Regions from separate parts of the Homo sapiens genome. Here region 2 is linked to region 1. Evidence: fine-mapped expression QTL. A gene starts in region 1. The other region holds a variant in brackets. All regions are shown on one strand. Distances are from middle to middle.

The links.
Region 2: its variant is fine-mapped to the expression of ZNF641 in whole blood (INTERVAL, PIP above 0.99).

What each region holds. Positions count from the first base shown.
Region 1 is chr12:48,345,841-48,356,786 of GRCh38, reverse strand. It overlaps ZNF641 (zinc finger protein 641), which reads left to right and starts at 5,868. Exons shown (of 6, transcript NM_001172681.2): 1 at 5,868-6,001; 2 at 8,672-8,880; 3 at 9,444-9,535. The coding sequence starts at 8,697. It also overlaps the pseudogene OR5BK1P. RefSeq lists silencers at 5,358-5,437, 5,718-6,147 and enhancers at 5,113-5,849, 6,288-6,357.
Region 2 is chr12:48,271,661-48,282,606 of GRCh38, reverse strand. LOC105369753 (a long non-coding RNA gene) reads left to right here. Exons shown (of 4, transcript XR_944923.3): 4 at 3,156-3,601. Among named protein-coding and RNA genes, the nearest start is that of H1-7, 52 kb to the left of the region's middle. The variant A/G (reference allele first, on the strand shown) is at 6,238.

The sequences.
Region 1 (10,946 bases):
TTGTACTTAAGATGACACTTCCTTATCCCGAGTTTCCCATTTTGGGCCATAGGTAAGGAGGTATACTCGTCTGTAAGTAGAAAACTCCTGTTCAGTGAGAATGACTCAGATGAATGCCCTGCCAAGTAGAGAACCATTCATTTCTTTTGAGGGACAGAATCTCTAAGCAACCATAATAAATGTCAATATTAGTCCTGAGTTTGTCCTTGTGGGATTTTCCAGTGATGCAGAGATCCAGATCATGCTCTTTGTGCTAATCCTGGTGATTCATCTCCTGACTTTGACGGGGAAGCTGGTGATGATCCTGGAGATCAGGGCTGATTCTCACCTTCAAAGACCCATGTACTTCTTCCTTTGACATCTGTCCTTTCTGGATCTCAGCTACTCCTAGTTACTGTGCCCAGGATGCTACAAAATTTCCTCTCAGAAGAAAAGCATCTCAATGTGGGGCTGCCTCACCAAGTTTCTTTTTCACTCTCTCTGGGGGAACGGAAGCCTGTCTGTTCTCTGCCATGGCCTATGATCACTATGCTACCATCCGCCACCCTGTGGTCTATACCATGGTCATGAACAGATCTCTCTGTATGGTGATTTTGAGAATTGCTTGGGCAGCGGGATTTCTGATTTCCTTGATGGACAGTCTTTTCACCCACAAGTTACATTTCTGTGGGCCTGACATCATCCTTATTTCAGGTGTAAGCTGCCTCCATTCTTCCCTCTGTCCTACATTGATCCCACTGTCAATGAGATTCTTCTAGCTGTGTCACAGGCATTCTGGGGGCTACTGACACTTTCCCTAATCTTCTTCTCTTACTCTAGAATCACATCTGTCATACTGAGCATCTGCTCCTCTGAGGGCCAAGGCAAAGCCTTCTCCGCATGCCCTTCTCATCTCGCTGTGGTTCTCTCATTCTATGGGACAGCTTTTTTCAGATACCCAGGCTCTACTTCAGGTTCGGTGTTGGGGCAAGTGGTCTCTGTTCAGTATAGTGAACTCTCTTTTCTCCTTGCTGCTTCAAGTACCATTTTCATCCTTCCTCTCTAAATAATGTCCAGCTGCATTGAAGCACATGTCATCAAACTATTCCACACACACTCCTCCTTGTTATTATTACCTACCACACTCCTGGTCACTCACCTTTCATTTAAGACTCCATCAACTGGCTTACTATCCCTCTCTCCATAATGCCTTCATTATTCCTAGTGACTTCAACATCCATGAGGACAATGCATCTCATGCATATGAATATGTGCAAGTATAATTGTATTCCTTGCTAAAATACTGAAATATTTTCATAGCCACTGTCAATCCTCTTCAATGTCATGCCTCAATGCTCTAGCCCCTCATCAGGATTCAACAGATCTCTTCACGATTCAGAAACAAAAAGTAATCATCTAACACAACAAGGTGCCTGCAGGACCCTGCACCAGCGTTATGGGCTACATCTATTTTGATGGGTCCATGCCATGCTAGCACTAGTAGTTAAATATTTTGAACCCTATCCCTGCTAGCACTCTAGTCTCTCAGTTCCTTGGCTTTATTTTACCTTAAATGATTGTGTTCACCACTGCAGCCACTCACTCTCACAGTTCATACCCTGTATCTACTTATGACCAACAGCAGCAGGAAGAATGCTGCTATGTCCCAAGGAACTCTGTATTCCACACATTAGAATCCACCTGTGTGCCCAACTCATCCCAGTTACCAGAATTCCATCAACAGAGCAGCCCAGGACCACCAAGTCTCCTTACAATGATATAATTGGCACCATCAGGTGTATCACTTCCTTTTAAACACAAATATAATGACTCCCTATCACCTGATATAGCAAATAAAAAATTCTTCATCCACCACCTTCATCCACTATTCTATCAATTTCCCTGTTTCTTCTCTACTCTAGACTGACACCCCCACATATGTGTGTTCTTCATTCCACAACATGCCACAGCATGTCCATTTCTGCCTTCTGATTCTATATGGGATGCCCTTCCTACATTTCACCTTCAAAGCTGATCTTGAAACTCCTCCATCAGAAAGTCTGAAAAAGATGGAATCATCTGCCTGCTACTCAATGCATAGTTAATTAATCCCTGCTGTAACATTGCATAGGAGTTTGTACTTGTCCATTGTAAAAGGTAAAGTACCACTCTGGTTAAAGGTGCACCCAGTGAGAAGTCAGACCAGGGCTCAATTCCTGATTGTGCCTCTTGGCTCACTTAATGTCCCTGAACCCATGCAGATCTACACCTTGCAGGGTTTGTTAACTGATAACTAAAGAGATGGCACACCAAAGCATAATATAAAGACATTTTGAATTTATTCCTTGTGATGTTTAAGACAAGGTTCTGTACAAGTACGGACGACCAAAGCAAAAATGGACAAACGGGGTCACATCAAGTTAAAAAGCTTCTGCACAGCAAAAGAAGCAATCAACAAATTGAAGAGACAACACACAGAATGGGAGAAAATATTTGCAAACTACTTATCTGATAAGAGATTAATAACCAGAATATATAAGGATCTCAAGCAACTCTACAGGAAAAAATCTAATACTCTGGTTAAAAAATAGGCAAAAGATTTGAATAGACATTTCTCAAAAGAATACATACAAATGGCAAACAGACATATGAGAAGGTGCTCAATATTACTGATCATCAGAGAAATGCAAATCAAAACTCCAATGAGATATCATCTCACTCCTGTTAAAATGGCTTATATTCAAAAAGCAGGCAATAACAAATGCTGGTAAGGATGTAGAGAAAAGGGAACCCTCATACACTGCTAGTGGGAATGTAAATTAGTATAACTACTAGGGAGAACAGTTTGGAGGTTCCTCAAAAAAACTAAAAATTGAGCTCCTATATGATCCAGCAATCCCACTGCTGGGTATATACCTAAAAGAAAGGAAATCAGTTTATCAAAGAGATATCTGCATTCCCATGTTTGTTGCAGCTCTGTTCACCATAGCCAAGATTTGGAAGCAATCTAAGTGTCCATTAACAGATGAATGAATAAAGAACAAATGGTACTTACACACAATGGAGCACTATTCAGCCATAAAAAAAGAATGAGATTTAGTCATTTGCAACAACATGGATGGAACTGGAAGTCATTATGTTAAGCGAAATAAGCCAGACACAGAAAGACAAACATCACATGTTCTCACTTATTTGGAGGATCTAAAAATCAAAACAATTCAACCCATGGAGATAGAGAGTAGAAGGATGGTTACCAGAGGCTGGGAAGGGTAATGGGGGAATGGGGACAGTGAGGATGGTTAATGGGTACAAAAAATAGTTTGAATGCATGAATAAGACCTAGTATTTAATAGAACAACCTAGTATTTAATAGACCTAGTATTTAATAGTTATTATAGTCAATAATAACTGTACATTTTAAAGTAACTAAAAGGGTATAATTGGATTGTTTGTAACACAAAGGATAAATGCTTGAGGGGATGGATACCTGATTCCCATGATGTGATTATCATGCATTGCATACCTGCATCAAAATATCTCATGTACCCCATAAAGATATTCACCTATTATGTAACTACACAAATTTAAAATTATAAAAGTTATTTTTAAAAAGAAAAGGTTCTGGTATAAAGAAGATGATACCATTCAGCCTCTTTTTTTTTTTTTTTTTTTGAGACGAAGTCTCATTCTGTTGCCCAAGCTGGAGTATTAGTGGCACGATCTCTGCTCACTGCAACTTCCACCTCCTGGTTTCAAGCGATTCTCCTGCCTCAGCCTCCCAAGTAGCTGGGACTACAGGCACGCACCACCATGCCCAGCTAGAGACAGGGTTTCACTATGTTGGCCAGGCTGGTTTTGAACTCCTGACCTTGTGATCCGCCCGCCTCTACCTCCCAAAGTGCTGGGATTACAGGCATGAGACACTGCACCTGGCTTTTTTTATTTTTTGGAAACAATCTCACACTGATTTGTTTCCCAAAACAGTCGAGGAGAGTTTGGGCTATTATAATATCTATCAGTTCTTTCCAAACATTCTTTTCAGGTAAAGTCAGGTTTACGTACTTGGTTATGTTCAATTTAACTCTGTGTGACGAGGCAATGCTGTGTCCAGCAGCGCCCATTTCCTTTTCCATGAGGCACACATTCTTTACTTCCCAGCCACCCTTCTGGGTAGGGCCATGTGACCATGCGCATGAGTTCTGGCTAAGGGAATGGGGTGAAAATGATACACACCACTTCCAGGACTGGCCCCTAATATCTCTGACAAGTTAACCACGGCCAGCCTCCCTTATCTGAGGGCCACAGATTTGACTACATTACCAAGGCCTCGGCATGGGAGAACCACCAAATGCAAGAAGCCTGGTCCTTCAATGAATTCAAGAAGTACAGACCCCACCCTCTGGCCCCAACCAACTTGTTACCACACTGTGACTTGTATGAACATAAGCCTTTATGGAGTTAAGCCCCGAGATACTGGTTTTGCTAGCCTACTCCAATTAACGCACCTTATATTTACCACCAGTGGTAGCATAAGTGAAAAGAACCCCTGGACTTAGTTCCAGGACCCGGGATAAAAATTCTGGCTCTACTACTACCCCGACATATCCCATGATCTGCTCCTAGAATATGCTCTATACTCTTCCCAACTGCGTGTCTACTGCATTTTCCTCTTTCATTAGACAGCCCTCCTGACTCTTCTCTGCCTCACGATTTCTGTCAGAGTGGGGGGCCTTCTCTGACCTCCGTCCCATACGTGGTCACTTCTCTTTGCTTCAAGTGCAGCGTACGTTCCTCTGTTTTAGAATCTACGTTTTTATTGCAAATATTTGTTGACATGTGCTTCCCCAGACTGTGAATCCTTTAACTCCCAGCATTTAGTTACAGTGTCTGGCACACGTAGAAAATAAATATGCATTAAACGAATGATTGTCACATATGACCTTAAGTGAGTCAATTATTTTTTAAGTCTACTAAATAAAATTTTTGAAAATTGTTGTAATGATGAAATAAGGAATGTGAATGTGACTTGTAGGTTATAAACAGATTCTAACAGCAATGGGTTTACTCACTGTTTGTAGGCCCTTCTCATCTTTTCTAGTCAAATCCATCTTAATGCTGCAAGGTAGCACTATCCAATAGAAATATAATGCAAGCCATATTTATAGCCACATTTAAAAAGTTAAAACCAGGTGAAATTAATTTTAATATATTTAACCCAATATACCCAAAATATCACTTTTTAAATTAAATCTTCTAAATCTTGGAACACATCTCTATTCAGACCAGCCACATTTCGAGAGCTCAGGTGTCACCTGCGGCTACGGCTCCCGCAAATGGGACAGCAGCCGCAAGGCCAACTTCAGATAGCAACCTGACTTCCCCTCAGGCAGAATAAGTGACTCCTCCTCAGTGCTCTCTCAAGCCCTTTATCCTATCGTGAAAACTAGAGGGTACGCTCCTTGAGGAATTCCAGACTGTTGTCTGGAGAAATCGCTCTCGGCCTCGGTCTGGCCTGTAACGGGCGGTTACGCAATTCCAGGTAATTGACGAACCCTGAGGACAGAACTCCGTGGGAGGCCCAGTAGCCAGAGCGGAAAATGGTCAGTCAGGCAAGAGTGCGGGCAAGTGGCCACAGCAGGCTGCGATTCCGGCGCCCGCCGCCCTCCAAGCGTCTCGGGCCGCACCCTCCCCACAGCGGCGGGCGCGGAGGTCCCGGGTTCGCGTTTGGGGGCGCCTGAGCCGCAGCCCCGCCCCCTCCCGTCCCTCCCTCCCTCCCTCCCTCCCACTCCTCTCCCTCCCACTCCTCTCCCTCCCACTCCCCGCACCTCCGCCGCCGCAGAGCCCCGGAAGCGGGCGGGGATTTCCTGTGCCCGCCCCGCCCCGCCCGCGCCTGCCGGGCCGCCGTCTCCGCCTGTCGCTGGCTCCGCCGGCCGCCGGCTCCCAGACGCAAGCGGAGGGCGGAGGGGAGGGGCAGGCGGCGCCCGGGAGGGAGGCACCGGGCCGCGGGCCAAGCCTACCGGGGGTGAGTGGAGCCGGGCCGGAGGGAGCTGCGGCTGGAGGGAGGGACGCCTGGCTTCCCGGGGCGGCTGGTGGGGGCTCGGTCACCCATAGGGGCTGGGAGGAGGATCGGCGCGTCTTCCGGGTTGCTGCCTTTCCCGGGGGTCTGCCCCGCTGACATTCTGTGCCCGCCTCTCGCCCTGTCTCCCCGTGCCCATCGCAACTGTCAGGCCCTGCGGGCTCCCGCCGCTGTCACTCGCGCACAGGTTACCCCGTGGCTCCCTTTCTCTTCACTTGCTCATGCCCCAGCTCATGGGAAACCTGTTTTCTGACCTCACTTCCCCTGCTCCAGTTCTGCCTTGCTCGGATTCTCTGAAATCTGACCCTTTCCAGGGGCACTGTGACAAGAAGAAGGGAAGAAGCAACCTTACCCCTGAGCAGGCTCCCGTCCCGCCCATGCCCTACCCGTGGCAGGGGCCAGGGTTCTCTGATGGACGGAGCCAACTCGTCCGTGTGCCCTTGGGCTACTCATTTTTATAACATGGCCCCTTTTCTGTTCATCAGCACTGGCTGCAGAAACTTCCTTTTGCAGGTCCCTTGCTACCCATATGTGTGAAGAAAAGGGGGAAATGAAAGCCCTAGAACCCACACTGCAGTGGGCATGGGATCATCCTGGAACCAGGAGAAACGAGGTTAGGGCTACCACCTTAACCGCCCAGGTGCTGGCTCTGCGTGAATATCTTAGGAAATGCAAGCTGAGGACAGGTACCCATCCCATCCTTTGCTGAGATTTTTGCTAGCACTTCCACGGATTTCTGTCAGTGGTATAGAAAAACTTACAGCTGGCCCAATGGGCTCTGCACAAAGAGGCTTCCCATTAAGAGACTCTGCTACCTGGGGGAGATGGAGAAAGGGTTTGAGACAAGTGTCCAGATATGTAGCTAGAGGTAAAGCCTTCAGGGAGGATTTGCACAGGAGCTAGAGAACCAGAAAGATGGGACGAAGAGGGAGAATTAGTGCCCTGTGTGTTAAAAGTGGATACAGAGCTGGAATTCAGAGAAGAGAGCTAAAATGGAAGTTTCCCTTTATTGCTTTAGCAAGAATTTTCCTTTCTCATGAAAAGTCTCTGAAAAGGAAACCTCCTAGGCTGGGAATCAGTCCAGGGTGCTCCCATGAGGCCCTGAGCCATCTTTGGACTTCTGAGATAAAAAGGGAATTTGTTTTTCCTGTGCATTGGGCTTAGGGTTCCCACCTACCTCTTTTGTCAAAGACAAATAGGCAAGAAAATAGACGACTTGACATCTGTGATTACCTACCCTGGCCTTCAAGGTTCTTGCAAGTGTTATTGAAAGGATGTAAGTAAGCCAGGATAGTTACCAAGTTTCTGACTGCTCTTGGAAGCCTTTCACTGACTCTGACTGTTTGGATATTGAATAAGAATACCCAAAATATGTTGCCAAACAGAAAGAGATTCTGAGTCTCAGATTATTTCTCTGCCATAAAGCCCTATCACAACAGAAGTGTGACCCATCCTGCTCTTAAGTTGTCTAAAGAAAAAGAAGAGCCCACTATCTGGTATTGTACACTGCAGGATTATTAAGAATTAAAAAAAAATAACCTAAATCTCTTCTCTTGCAATCAAGACCCATTTTTTTCTGTTTGACCTATATAGAGATAGAAGGGACCTCTGTTTTTATTCATTAGTAGCATCATTCATCAGCCTTCTTCTCCAGACAGAGAAAACTACATCCGACATTTTTAACTTTCCCAGTGGCTGTATTTCCAATCCCTTTCTTGACTTTGATGTTTTCTGATGAACACACACTGGCTTCACCATACGCTTCTTTCAAACTGAATATATTTTTCTAATGAGATCTGACTGGTGCCTGACAAATAAACAGGTTTGTTCTTCTGGGTCATGTTAGCAGCAGTTCTTCCCCCCTTTTCCAGCTCTGGTTCAAACTCTTTCTGTTCCTTTTTACTTTTCCTGATTAAACTTCAGCTCCTCACAGACCAACAATTTCTCTTACCTCTTAGGATTACTTTGGAGTCTTAACACCTGCTTTCCAAGTTATCAGTTTTTCTACCATATTTACTACCAGTTTTCATTGGATGGTAGACCAAGTGCCTTTTTATTGAGGCTTGTCCCAAGTGAGGTACCTTTTGGCCCAGCCTCATGATACAAATACGCCCCTTGGTTGGGACTTTTACCTATAGTAATCATTTCATTCTAAACTGATGAGACTGTGATTTGTGGCAGAAAATCTTCTGTGTGATTACATCCATCTTGTTGAGTGCAGGTCTATATGTATTTCTTCCTGTATGTTTCCAAATTGCTTACTTTCCTGTACTTCATGTGCTTGAAATTAAATGGATAGCCTTTGAATTTCCAGGACAGTTCTTTTTTTTTAAATGAACTTCTTCTAACCTTCAGGTATATTCTGTTTCTATAATGAGGTCCACAAAATACCAGTTAGTGGCTTTGCTACGTAGCACCTGCCAATTTCTTAGTTCCTCCAAGAAGCTTGGTGCAGGCTCCGTTGATCGGAACACATCAAGCTTTTAAAGTTCATCTTCCAGCAAGCTCCTCCTATCTAGTTTTGTCTATTATCCCTGGGCCTGTTCTTCATAACTCCCTTAGAAATATCACTCCTTTCCCATTTTCATGGGCATTGCTGATATGAATTTGTTCCAGGTCACAATTTGGGTCTGCAGCAGAAATGCTTTCAGAACAGACAGCAGCGCTGGGGACAGGATGGGAATCAATGAATGTACAGCTGGATGGAGCAGAGCCCCAGGTGGAAAGGGGAAGCCAGGAAGAGCGGCCATGGAGAACAGTACCAGGACCTCTGGAGCACCTGTGCTGTGACCTTGAAGAGGAGCCACAGTCCCTTCAGGAGAAGGGTGAGAACTCACAGAGTGTGTGGGAAGCACAGTGCATAGTCTCCTAATATTTATTCCAAAAGTAGGGTTAAAAATCTCCAAATTGCCATGGACTAAATAGCATAACCTGTACCAGGACCAGCCCATTCTTTCTCAGCCCTGGTCACAGGTACAGAATAGGCTCCTGAATTCAGCAAACCATGCAACTGGGCTTCTCTTGTTTCTTCATAATTACTCCCTCCACATGCAAATGCATAATTAGTGATACTGAATGAGGGAGATGAAGGAAGTGACAGCAACCTGATTACTGTTGGATAACCCACTCAGTAAGATGTAATTTACTAGATGAAAATTACATTCAAGTACTGTAAATTCAAACTATAGCTAGTCTAACTAAAAGCCATCTGATACCCTTTCAGAACATTTTGAGTGATGGCCTTCTCATCTACATTTATGCATTTGAGTTTTACCAATGGGCATAGATACAGAAGTTGTGACCCTTAAGCCTCTCTAAAATGGGGCCCAGGCCCCATTGAGAAAGGGTAGATCGTTATTCTCTAATGTTTCTTCTCTCTCCTTATCAGCTCAGTCTGCTCCCTGGGTTCCTGCAATTCCCCAGGAGGGGAACACTGGAGACTGGGAGATGGCAGCTGCACTTCTTGCGGCTGGATCACAGGTGAGCTCTGCTTCCCTTGGCGTCTCCTGTGGTCCCATCACTGCTGCCTTTGTATTGCTTTCGCATCAGCCCATTGATGAGTTGGCTCACATGATCATCAATGGTATGTTCATCTTATAACTGAATAGATTCTATCCCTTTCCAAGGGGTCATAAGACCCTTGGAAAATTAAATGGACCTACAAGAAAGGGAATTCCTTGAGGTTAGGGTTTTTTTGAGTTTTGTTTTGTTTTTTGTTTTTGAGACAGAATCTCACTGTGTTGCCCTGGTTGGAGTGCAGTGGTATGATCTTGGCTCCCTGCAACCTCCACCTTCTGGGTTCAAGCGATTCTTGTGCTTCAGCCTCCCAAGTAGCTGGGACTACTGGCACACGCCACCACACCTAGCTAATTTTTGTGTTTTTAGTAGAGACAAGGTTTTGCCACGTTGGCCAGGCTGGTCTTGAACTGCTGACGTCAGGTGATCTGCCCACCTCAGCCTCCCAAAGTGCTGGGGTCACAGGTATGAGCCACCGTGCCTGGCCAAGGTTAGGGTTTTTAATGGATGGCTGTGTTTGTTATCCACAGGAGGATTTTAAGAATAATTAATTACCTTCCTTTAAGAAATAAATCTGGAAAGATTAGGAAAAGAGGACCTGAAGAAAGCTTAGAAGAACCTAAAGTGGAAGGATTGGGTAGATGAGGGAGCATTTATGGAAAAGAAGAGGAAGAAGGTTATAAAGAGGGGCAGAGCTAGAAAGGAAATTAGGTTTAGATTCAGAAGGCAATAGGAGAGCTGTGGAAAGCTAATACTAATAGTGTTAGTACTAATAGAGTACACCCCCAGAGTGTTTATCATGTATGCCATTTTCTGGGTGCTTTATGTATATTAACTCATTTAATTCTGAGAACAACTCAGTTATCCAATTTTACAGATGAGGAAATGGGGCAGGGAGAGATTAAGGCACTTGTGTAGGTCATGCTGCAAGAAAGTGGCAAAGCTGAGTCACTTGGCTCCAGATTCTGAGCTCCTAACCACCATACTGTGCTGCCTAAAAATATAAAGATATGGCCAGGCACGGTGGCTCATGCCTGTAATCCCAGCACTTTGGGAGGCCGAGGTGGGCAAATCACAAGGTCAGGAGTTCGAGACCAGCCTGGCCAACATGGTGAAACCCCGTCTCTACTAACACCACAAAAAAAATAGCTGGGTGTAGTGGTGGGTGCCTGTAATTCCAGCTACTTGGGAGGCTGAGACAGGAGAATCGCTTGAACCTGGGAGGTGGAGGTTGCGGTGAGCCAAGATTGTGCTACTGCACTCCAGCCTGGGCGACAGTGAGACTCCGTCTCAAAAAAAAAAAAATGCTGTGGCAAGGGAGGCAAGAAAGAATGTTTTATCTGTAGCATTTTGTGCTGATAGAAAAGGCAGGGTC
Region 2 (10,946 bases), 74 kb after region 1:
AGAATCAATCAGTGGAAGCCCTGAGCTTGTTTTCCTGCAAATAGATGGTCCCATCTGGGGGGTGATGGGAGATAGCAACAGATCATCTGGCATTAGATTCTCATAAGGAGTGTGCAACCTAGATCCCTCACACGTGCAGTTCACAACAGGGTTCATGCTCCTGTGAGAATCAAATGCCACTGTTGATCTGACAGGGGTCACAGCTCAGGTGGTAATGTGAGTAATGGGGAGCAGCTGTAAATACAGATGAAGTTTTACTTGCTTGCCCACCACTCACCTTCTGCTGTGTGGCCCAGCTCCTAATAGGCCACTGACCAGTACCAGTCTGTGACCTGGGGGCTGGGAACCCCTATAGTAGCTAATCTGTATGTTCTACATCAGCGAGCTCCTTTGTCCTCTGGCTTCCATTTGGGTTCTACCAAGGGGGACACTGGAGTGAGATCTAGGAATTATTCTGCCAGCAAACCTCTCTGTAAATATGACTTTATTTGAAAATAGTGTTTTGTAGATACAATCAAGTTGAGATGAGGCCAAACTAAATAAAGGCAGTCCCTAATCCAATGACTAATTCTTAGAAGAAGGGGGAAGTTTGAACACACACAGAGCCGCACAAGGAGAATGTCATGTGATGACAGAGGCAGAGATTAAGGTAATGATAAGGCAAAGGATGCCAGGGGTTTCTGGCAGTTACCAGGAGAGAAGCATGGAACAGATTCTCCCTCAGAATCTCCAGAAGGAACCAATTCTGCCAACACCTTGATTTTGGACTTCTAGTCTCCAAAACTGTGAGAGAATACATTCCCACTCCTTTAGGCCACTCAATTTGTGGTCGTTTGTTATGGCAGCCCTAGGAGATGAATAGATTGATTGGACATTTTTCTTTGGTGTTATGTTAGAAATATCTGTGTTGAGTGGACCCATTACAATTTTAATGTGTTTTCTCCTGATTATGATAGTAATACATTGAAACTACAAAAAAACTATAAAGAAGAATAACAATTCAAAAATATTCATGACTTCTATAGTTATCATTTTGGTATATTTCCACTGCCTAAATGTGATTTGGCATAACTTTTTCACATGATATGTAGAATTTTCATCCTGAATTTTCCTTAAAATTATAGGTAAGTATGTATCCGTGGTATAAAGAACTCATCATAGATATATTGACTGTATAAAATGCCATTATGTAGGTGTTCTATATTTAATTTAACAGTTTATCTCTTGTAGAATAATTGTTGTCCATTTGTTATTATTAGAAACATTCTGTGATGCCGGGTGCAATGAGATTAATGTCTTTTTTTTCCAGAAGGGGATTTAATTTTTATCCCAGTCAGTGATTGGGATAGATTATATGAGAAGTGTATGTTAATAGATATGTCCCAAAGTCAGGGACTTTCTGACTAATCCAGAAATAACTGCAAGGGTAAGATTTAGGGTGAGAATAGAGAGGACTTTGTAGGGACAGTACTTAAGTTACACAGCTGGGAGAGCTGGTGCTGGAGTTGCCATTTTACTCATGATACTTGGAACAAGATCTGCAGGGACACCTCCTGGACATGGGCCCTTTGCTCACTCTTTTAATAAATCCCAGTTGCTCCTGTGATCCTCCTTGGATAGTCACTGAGCAGTCCCTGTAGGTATCTTCCTAACTAAACTCTTGAGAATCATTTAGAGTAAAAGCAAAACTCAAGCTGGCCTTAATTGATCTGATGTAAAGCTGCCCGTGGAGATTTCCACACATGGAACAGCTGGGATTATCTAAGTACCAAATGCTAATGAGACCCTGACGGTCCCGGCTCAACACTACCTTCCCCTCCCCTCAGGCCTGTTCCCCCAGATACCAGAGAAGGAGGAAGGACGAGGGGACCAACTGGGCAGAGATTGGCTGGGACCCAAGTGCCTCCTTAGAGTGTGATCAAGACTATTACTCTGCTTCTCCAGGGAGAAAAGTTTGGAAGTTCAAAGTCATTTTTATTGGCCTAACTGGCATGTGCCGGGCAATGCTCTGCACTATAAATTGAGATTATCAAATCCAGAAAAGGTCAATACATTATATCTTTCTTTGGTCTCCTTCAGAAAGTGAAGTATAGTGAGCTCATATCATGGAAAAATAACCTTTGTAATAAGATTGGAAAACTTATTTCAAGAAGCTTAGGTCCCTCCCTGAGAGGCTGTCACAGGGAAGTTATCCAAGAACCCAATCTATGCAGACCCTTTCTCCTCACCCTAGAACACAAAAGTGTTCAAGTCTTTCCCTCACTTTTTCATTCAAAACATATAATCAGCTTATTATGTGCCAAGCAGGGTGTTGACTATTATGGGAGACAGATGAATAAAATATGGTCTTTCCTTTAAGATGGGTAAAATCCTGGCAGGAAAGAGCTGTCATTTAAAACAATCATTACAAGAGGTAGAGAATGTTAAACACAACAAATGAGGCATAAACAAAATCAAAGGTTCATAAGTGAGACACTATACTCAATTTCTGGCTGAAAAGATAAGGAGAGACCTCAGAGAAGATTAAGCATTTAATCTGAGTCTTAAAAGTTTCCAATGTTCTCTCTTTTCTTTGCCTACGGCTGCTGCCCTGGATTATACCCTCATTATCTCATCTACCTATTTACTCACTCATTCAACACTTTTTAAAAAAACTTACAAATTACCAAGGTCAAGGCCAGCTGTGGGGATACAACAGCAAACAACACAGAAATGGCCCTTTCCTTCATGGTCCTTACAGTCTAGTTGGGAAGATAAGTAAACAGACAAATTAGAATGATGATAGAACTAAACAAAGAGCTAGTTAGAGAACAGCAGGGGATCAGCTTTAGAGAGGAAGGTCAGGGAAGGCCTATTTGAGAAAGTGACACATATGCTAAGACTTAAGGCATGAGAATGAGCAAGGCTTGGCAAAAGTTAGAGAATGAGCAAGGCTTGGCAAAAGTTAGAGAAAGAGCATTCTAGAGAGACGGAACAGCATATTCAAAAGCTATGAAATAGGGAAGAGCTTATAGATATCAAGTTTCTGAAATGTGAATAAAGAAGAAACTAGAATGAGATGAGGTTGGAAAGAGAGGCAGAGGGAGGATGGCCTTGCTCTTATTAGAAGTTTAAATTTTAATTTAAATGTATCAAATTATGCCCCCAATTGACAGACAAGGCAGACTCCCTGTGGCTCAAAAGCTAAAAGCAGAACCAAGAGGCCATAGCAGAGTGAGGGAGTGATCATGCACTCTGTATCTGTCAAAACTATTGTAAAACCAGTTTTTCTGCAATCAAGTCAAAGAACAGTTCCTGAAAACAATGTCAAAAACAACTACAGCTGGAAATTCCCCAACTGACCACCAATAGGTTACCTGGTGCCAGCCAATTACCTGGAATCAGCCAACTAAGAGAGACTGGTTATTTGGGAGATCAAAGGTTTTCCAATCAAGACTGTGTTCCTCACTCCCTGACTCCTCTTCTGGCCTGCAATCTTCATCTTTATGATATATAACTCTCCAATCCCCTCCTTAGAGTGCACTTTTGTTTTGCACTGAAGGCTGTCTCCTCAATCTGCAGGTTGCTTTTAGAAAATAAAGTTCTCCTTTTGCCTCCACAAGAGATCTCATTGCTCTTTTGTTAACATTTCAAATGCAACAGAATATTGTTTTTTAAGTGAATGAACAATGTGAAATGATTTACATTTTAAGATAATTCTTGCTTTGGTTGGGAAAATTGATAGGAGGAAGGCAAGAGTAAAAATGAGAAGGTCCAATTAGGAGCCCAGGGAAGAGATGATGGTATCTTGGATTAGGATGGCACAGAGAAATGTACAGATTCTATATGTACTTTGACAAAAGATTCACTAGCACTTTCTGATTAAATGTGGGGACTGAGGAAAATGGAGGAATCAAAGATAACTCCTAGGTTTCTAAAATGGGCAACTCCATAGGTTAATTTAATAGACTGTTTTCTTTCTCCTTGTAACAGAATAATAATCCCTATCTATGTTAGGGATCTATACAGCCCATTGAATGACCATGTGGCTTGCTTTGACGACTGGGATGTAGGCAGAAGTGATAATAAGCTAGAATCCTCAAGGTCATCTACTAGTTGCAAAAGAGCAGCTGGATCCTAGTAGAAAAGATCCAAAGTAGAAAAGTCTGAAATGAAAACAATAAGCAATATTCATCAACAGGTGGGTAATTTCAGTATGCAGTTAGAAACTAAGAAAAGGCCGGTGCTGGGAAAACTGCTAGCCATATGTAGAAAGCTGAAACTGGATCCCTTCCTTACACCTTATACAAAAATCAATTCAAGATGGATTAAAGACTTAAACATTAGACCTAAAACCATAAAAACCCTAGAAGAAAACCTAGGCATTACCATTCAGGACATAGGCATGGGCAAGGACTTCATGTCTAAAACACCAAAAGCAATGGCAACAAAAGCCAAAATTGACAAATGGAATCTAATTAAACTAAAGAGCTTCTGCACAGCAAAAGAAACTACCATCAGCGTGAACAGGCAACCTACAAAATGGGAGAAAATTTTCACAACCTACTCATCTGACAAAGGGCTAATATCCAGAATCTACAATGAACTCAAACAAATTTACAAGAAAAAAACAAACAACCCCATCAAAAAGTGGGTGAAGGACATGAACAGACACTTCTCAAAAGAAGACATTTATGCAGCCAAAAAACACATGAAAAAATGCTCACCATCACTGGCCATCAGAGAAATGCAAATCAAAACCACAATGAGATACCATCTCACACCAGTTAGAATGGCAATCATTAAAAAGTCAGGAAACAACAGGTGCTGGAGAGGATGTGGAGAAATAGGAACACTTTTACACTGTTGGTGGGACTGTAAACTAGTTCAACCCTTGTGGGAGTCAGTGTGATGATTCCTCAGGGATCTAGAACTAGAAATACCATTTGACCCAGCCATCCCATTACTGGGTATATACCCAAAGGAATATAAATCATGCTGCTATAAAGACACATGCACACGTATGTTTATTGCAGCATTATTCACAATAGCAAAGACTTGGAACCAACCCAAATGTCCAACAATGATAGACTGGATTAAGAAAATGTGGCACATATACACCATGGAATACTATGCAGCCATAAAAAATGATGAGTTCCTGTCCTTTGTAGGGACATGGATGAAATTGGAAATCATCATTCTCAGTAAACTATCGCAAGAACAAAAAACCAAACACTGCATATTCTCACTCATAGGTGGGAATTGAACAATGAGAACACATGGACACAGGAAGGGGAACATCACACTCTGGGGACTGTTGTGGGGTGGGGGGAGGGGGGAGGGATAGCACTGGGAGATATACCTAATGCTAGATGATGAGTTAGTGGGTGCAGCACACCAGCATGGCACATATATACATTTGTAACTTAACCTGCACATTGTGCACATGTACCCTAAAACTTAAAGTATAATAATAATAAATAAAAAAAAGAAACTAAGAACAGGCCAAAGAAAGGTTAGAAAATATTTAAATGTATGGTAATAGTGGTGAAGAAGGCCTTCAATGGGTTCATAAGTAGACTGAACATAGCCAAAGGGAAAACAATTAGTAAACTGGAAGATATGTCAACAGATATTACCAAAACTAAAGGAAAAAAATTAAAAAGAATAGAAAAAGGACAGAACATATGAGTTATGTGGCAATATTAAACAGGCTAACATACATGTAATTAGAATTCCAGAAGAGAAAGAGATCAGAGTAGAAAAATAAACGAAGAGATGATAGCTGAGAATTTTCAAAAAATAATGAAAGACATCAAACCACAGATCCAAGAAGCTCAGAGAATCATAGTGATATAAATACCAACACACACACACACACTACACACACACGATGTGTCCTATTTAAACATTTGAAAACCAAAGATAAAGAGAAAATCTAGAAGACAGTCAGACAAAAAAGACACATTACCTAAAGGAAAAAAATTAAATTTACAGCATAGTCATCACAAGAAACTAAGACATAGAGTGACATCTTTAAAATGTTAAAAGAAAAAAAAAGTAACATGGAATTCTATACCAAGTGAAAATACTTTTCAAAATGAAAGAGAAATTAAGCAGACCTATGCCACAAGAAATGTTAAAGAAAGTTCTTGGCTGGGTGTGGTGGCTCACGCCTGTAATCCCAGCATTTTGAGAGGCCAAGGTGGGTGGATCACTAGGTCAGGAGATTGAGACCATCCTGGCTAACACGGTGAA[A/G]CCCTGTCTCTACTAAAAATACAAAAAAGATTAGCAGGGCATGGTGGTTGGTGTCTGTAGTCCCAGCTACTTGGGAGGCTGAGGCAGGAGAATGGCATGAACCCAGGATGCAGAGCTTGCAGTGAGCCAAGATCGCGCCACTGCACTCCAGCCTGGGTGACAGAGTGAGACTACATCTCAAAAAAAAAAAAAAGAAAAAAAAAAAAAGGAAAGTTCTTTAAGAGGAAGGAATGTAATACTAGACAGAAACTTGAATCTATGCAAAGATCTTTTGGAATTGTTAAAGTCAAAGTAAATATAAAATATTTTTTCTTGTTAATAACTTTAGAAGATAATTTACTGTCTAAAGCAAAAACAAAGGCAACCTACTCTGGGTTTGGAGCACAAGTAAAAGTAAAACATATAACAATTGCATAAAGAGTGAGAGAAATTAGGGAAGTTATTACGCTACACATAAGTGGCATAATACTATTTGAAGGTAGACTGTGATTAAATAAATGTGTTTATGAAAACTCCTAGGGCAGATTGCTGGCAAGATGGCCAAATAGGAACAGCTCCAGTCTGCAGCTCCCAGTGAGATCAACACAGAAGATGGGTGATTTCTGCATTTCCAACTGAGCCTCCACTGGTGATACCCAGGCAAACAGTGTCGGGAGTGGACCTCCAGCAAATTCCAGCAGACCTGCAGCGGAGAGGCCTGACTGTTAGAAGGAAAACTAACAAACAGAAAGGAGTAGCATGTCCACTCAAAGACTCCAACCGAAAGTCACCAACATCAAAGACCAAAGGTAGATAAATCCAAAAAGATGGGGAGAAACCAGCACTAAAAGGCTGAAAATTCCAAAAACCACAACACCTCTTCTCCTCCAAAGGATCATAACTCCTTGCCAGCAAGGGAACAAATCTGGATGGAGAATGAGTTTGAGGAATTCACAGAAGTAGGCTTCAGAAGGTGGGTAATAACAAACTCCTCCGAGCTAAAGGAGCATGTTCTAACCCAATTCAAGAAAGCTAAGAACCTTGAAAAAAGCTTAGATGAACTGCTAACTAGAATAATCAGTTTAGAGAAGAACATAAATGACCTGATGGAGCTGAAAAACACAGCACGAGAACTTCGTGAAGCATACACAAGTATCAATAGCGGAATCGATCAAATGGAAGAAAGGATATCAGGGATTGAAGATCAACTTAATGAAATAAAGCGAGAAGACAAGATTAGAGAAAAAAGAATAAAAAGGAATGAACAAAGCCTCCAAGAAATATGGGACTATGTGAAAAGACCAAATCTATGTTTGATTGAAGTACCTGAAAGTGACAGGGAAAATGGAACCAAGTTAGAAAACACTCTTCAGGATATTATCCAGGAGAACTTCCCCAACCGAGCAAGACAGGCCAACATTCAAATTCAGGAAATACAGAGAATACCACAAAGATACTCCTCGAGAAGAGCAACTCCAAGACACATAATCATCAGATTCACCAAGGTTGAAATGAAGGAAAAAACAGCCAGAGAGAAAGGTCAGTTTACCCACAAAGGGAAGCCCATCAGGCTAACAGTGGATCTCTTTGCAGAAACCCTACAAGCCAGAAGAGAGTGGGGGGAAATATTGAACATTCTTTTTTTTTTTTTTTTTTTTTTTGAGATGGTGTCTCGCTCTATCACCCAGGCTGGAGTGCGGTGGCACAATCTCTGCTCACTGCAAGCTCCGTCTCCTGGGTTCATGCCATTCTCCTGCCTCAGCCTCCCGAGTACATGGGACTACAGGCACCCACCACCATGTCTGGCTAATTTTTTTTGTATTTTTTTTAGTAGAGATGGGGTTTCACCACGTTAGCCAGGATGGTATCAATCTCCTGACCTCCTGATCTGCACACCTCGGCCTCCCAAAGTGCTGGGATTACAGGTGTGAGCCACTGTGCCCAACCAATATTCAACATTTTTAAGGAAAAGAATTTTCAACTCAGAATTTCATATCCAGCCAAACTAAGCTTCATAAGCAAAGGAGAAATAAGATACTTTACAGACAAGCAAATGCTGAGAGATTTTATCACCACCAGGCCTGCCTTTCAAGAGCTCCTGAAGGAAGCACTAAACATGGAAAGGAACAACTGGTACCAGCCACTGCAAAAACATGCCAAATTGTAAAGAACATCAACACTATGAAGAAACTGCATCAGATAAGGGGCAAAACAACCAGCTAGCATCATAGTGACAGGATCAAATTCACACATAACAATATTAACCTTAAATGTAAATGGGCAAAATGCCTCAATTAAAAGACACAGACTGGCAAATTGGATAAAGAGTCAAGACCCATCAGTGTGCTGTATTCAGGAGACTCATCTCATGTGCAAAGACACACATAGACTCAAAATAAAGGGATAAAGGGATGGAGGAATATTTACCAAGCAAATGGAAAGCAAAAAAAAAGAAAAAAGAAAAAAAGCAGGAGTCACAATCCTAATCTCTGATAAAACAGACTTTAAATCAACAAAGATCAAAAGAGACAAAGAACGGCATTACATAATGGTAAAGGGATCAATTCAACAAGAAGAGCTAACTATCCTAAATATATATGCACCCAATACAGGAGCACCCAGATTCATAAAGCAAATTCTTAGAGACCTACAAAGAGACTTAGACTCCCACACAATAGTAGTGGGAGATTTTAATACCCTACTGTCAATATTAGACATATCAATGAGACAGAAAATTAACAAGGATATTCAGGACTTCAACTCAGCTCTGGACCAAGCAGACCTAAAGGACATCTACAAAACTCTCCACTGCAAATCAAGAGAATGTACACTCTTCTCAGCACCTCATCACACTTATTCTAAAATTGACCACACAATTGGAAGTAAAACACTCCTCAGCAAATGCAAAAGAACGGAAATCATAACAAACAGCCTCTCAGACCACAGTGCAATCAAATTAGAACTCAGGATTAAGAAACCCACTCAAAACCACAAAACTACATGGAAACTGAACAACTTGCTCCTGAATGACTACTGGGTAAATAACGAAATGAAGGCAGATATAAAGATGTTTATTGAAACCAATGAGAACAAAGACACAACATGCCAGAATCTCTGGGACATATTTAAAGCAGTGTGTAGAGGGAAATTTATAACACTAAATGCCAGAAAGATCTAAAATTGACAGTCTAACATCACAATTAAAAGAACTAGAGAAGCAAGAGCAAACAAATTCAAAAGCTAGCAGAAGACAAGAAATAACTAAGATCAGAGCAGAACTGAAGGAAATAGAGACACAAAAAACCCTTCAAAAAATCAATGCATCCAGGAGCTGGTGTTTTGAAAAGATCCACAAAATAGATAGACTGCTAGCCAGACTAATAAAGAAGAAAAGAGAGAAGAATCAAACAGACGCAATAAAAAATGATATGGGGGATATCACCACCGATCCCACAGAAATACAAACTACCATCAGAGAATACTGTAAACACATCTATGCAAATAAACTAGAAAATCTAGGAGAAATGGATAAATTCCTGGACACATACACCCTCCCAAGTCTAAACCAGGAAGAAGTCGAATCCCTGAATAGACCAATAAAAAGTTCTGAAATTGAGGCACTAATTAATAGCCTACCAACCAAAAAAAGTCCAGAACCAGATGGATTCATAGCCGAATTCTACCAGAGGTACAAAGAGGAGCTGGTACCATTCCTTCTGAAACTATTCCAAACAATAGAAAAAGAGGGAATCCTCCCTAACTCATTTTATGAGGCCACCATCATTCTGATACTAAAACCTGGCAGAGACACAACAAAAAAAGAAAATTTCAGGCCAATATCCCTGATGAACATCAATGCAAAAATCCTCAATAAAATACTGGCAAACCAAATCCAGCAGCACATCATAAAGCTTATCCACCACGGTCAAGTCACCTTCATTCCTGGGATGCAAGGCTGGTTCAACATATGCAAATCAATAACCATAATCCATCACATAAACAGAACATGTATACCCATGTAACAAAACTGCACGTTCTGCTCATGTACCCTAGAACTTAAAGTATAATAATAATAAAAAAAATTCTAGGGCAGCCACTTAAAAACTGTAAAGATGTATAAATGATAAGCCAATAGTGAAGATAAAATGAAATCATTTAAAAAAGTTTAATACGGCTGGTCGTGGTGGCTCACGCCTATAATCCCAGCACTTTGGGAGGCCAAGGCAGGCGGATCAGGAGGTCAGGAGATTAAGACCATCCTGGCTAACATGGTGAAACCCTGTCTCTATTAAAAATACAAAAAATTAGCCGGGCGTGGTGGCAGGCGCCAGTAGTCCCAGCTACTCGGGAGGCTGAGGCAGGAGACAGGAGAATGGCCTGAACCCGGGAGGCGGAGCTTGCAGTGAGCCGAGATCGCGCCACTGCACTCCAGCCTGAGCAACAGAGCGAGACTTTGACTCAAAAAAAAAAAAAAAGTTAAATACAAAAGTAGGCAGAAAAATTCCACACCCATTTATTACCAAACCTCTTGGAAACTATGTATAGAAGGAAACCTTTCTGAACTGAAAAAGAATACCTTAAAAAATCTGCAGTAGTAGATATTCTAAGAGTACCTTAAAATAGTGTATTTAATAATGATGGACCAAATCTTTTTATCCTAAGACTGAGAAAAGGCAAAAATATCTGTTATCACCACTCTTATTCAACATTATACAGAAGGTCTAGCCTGT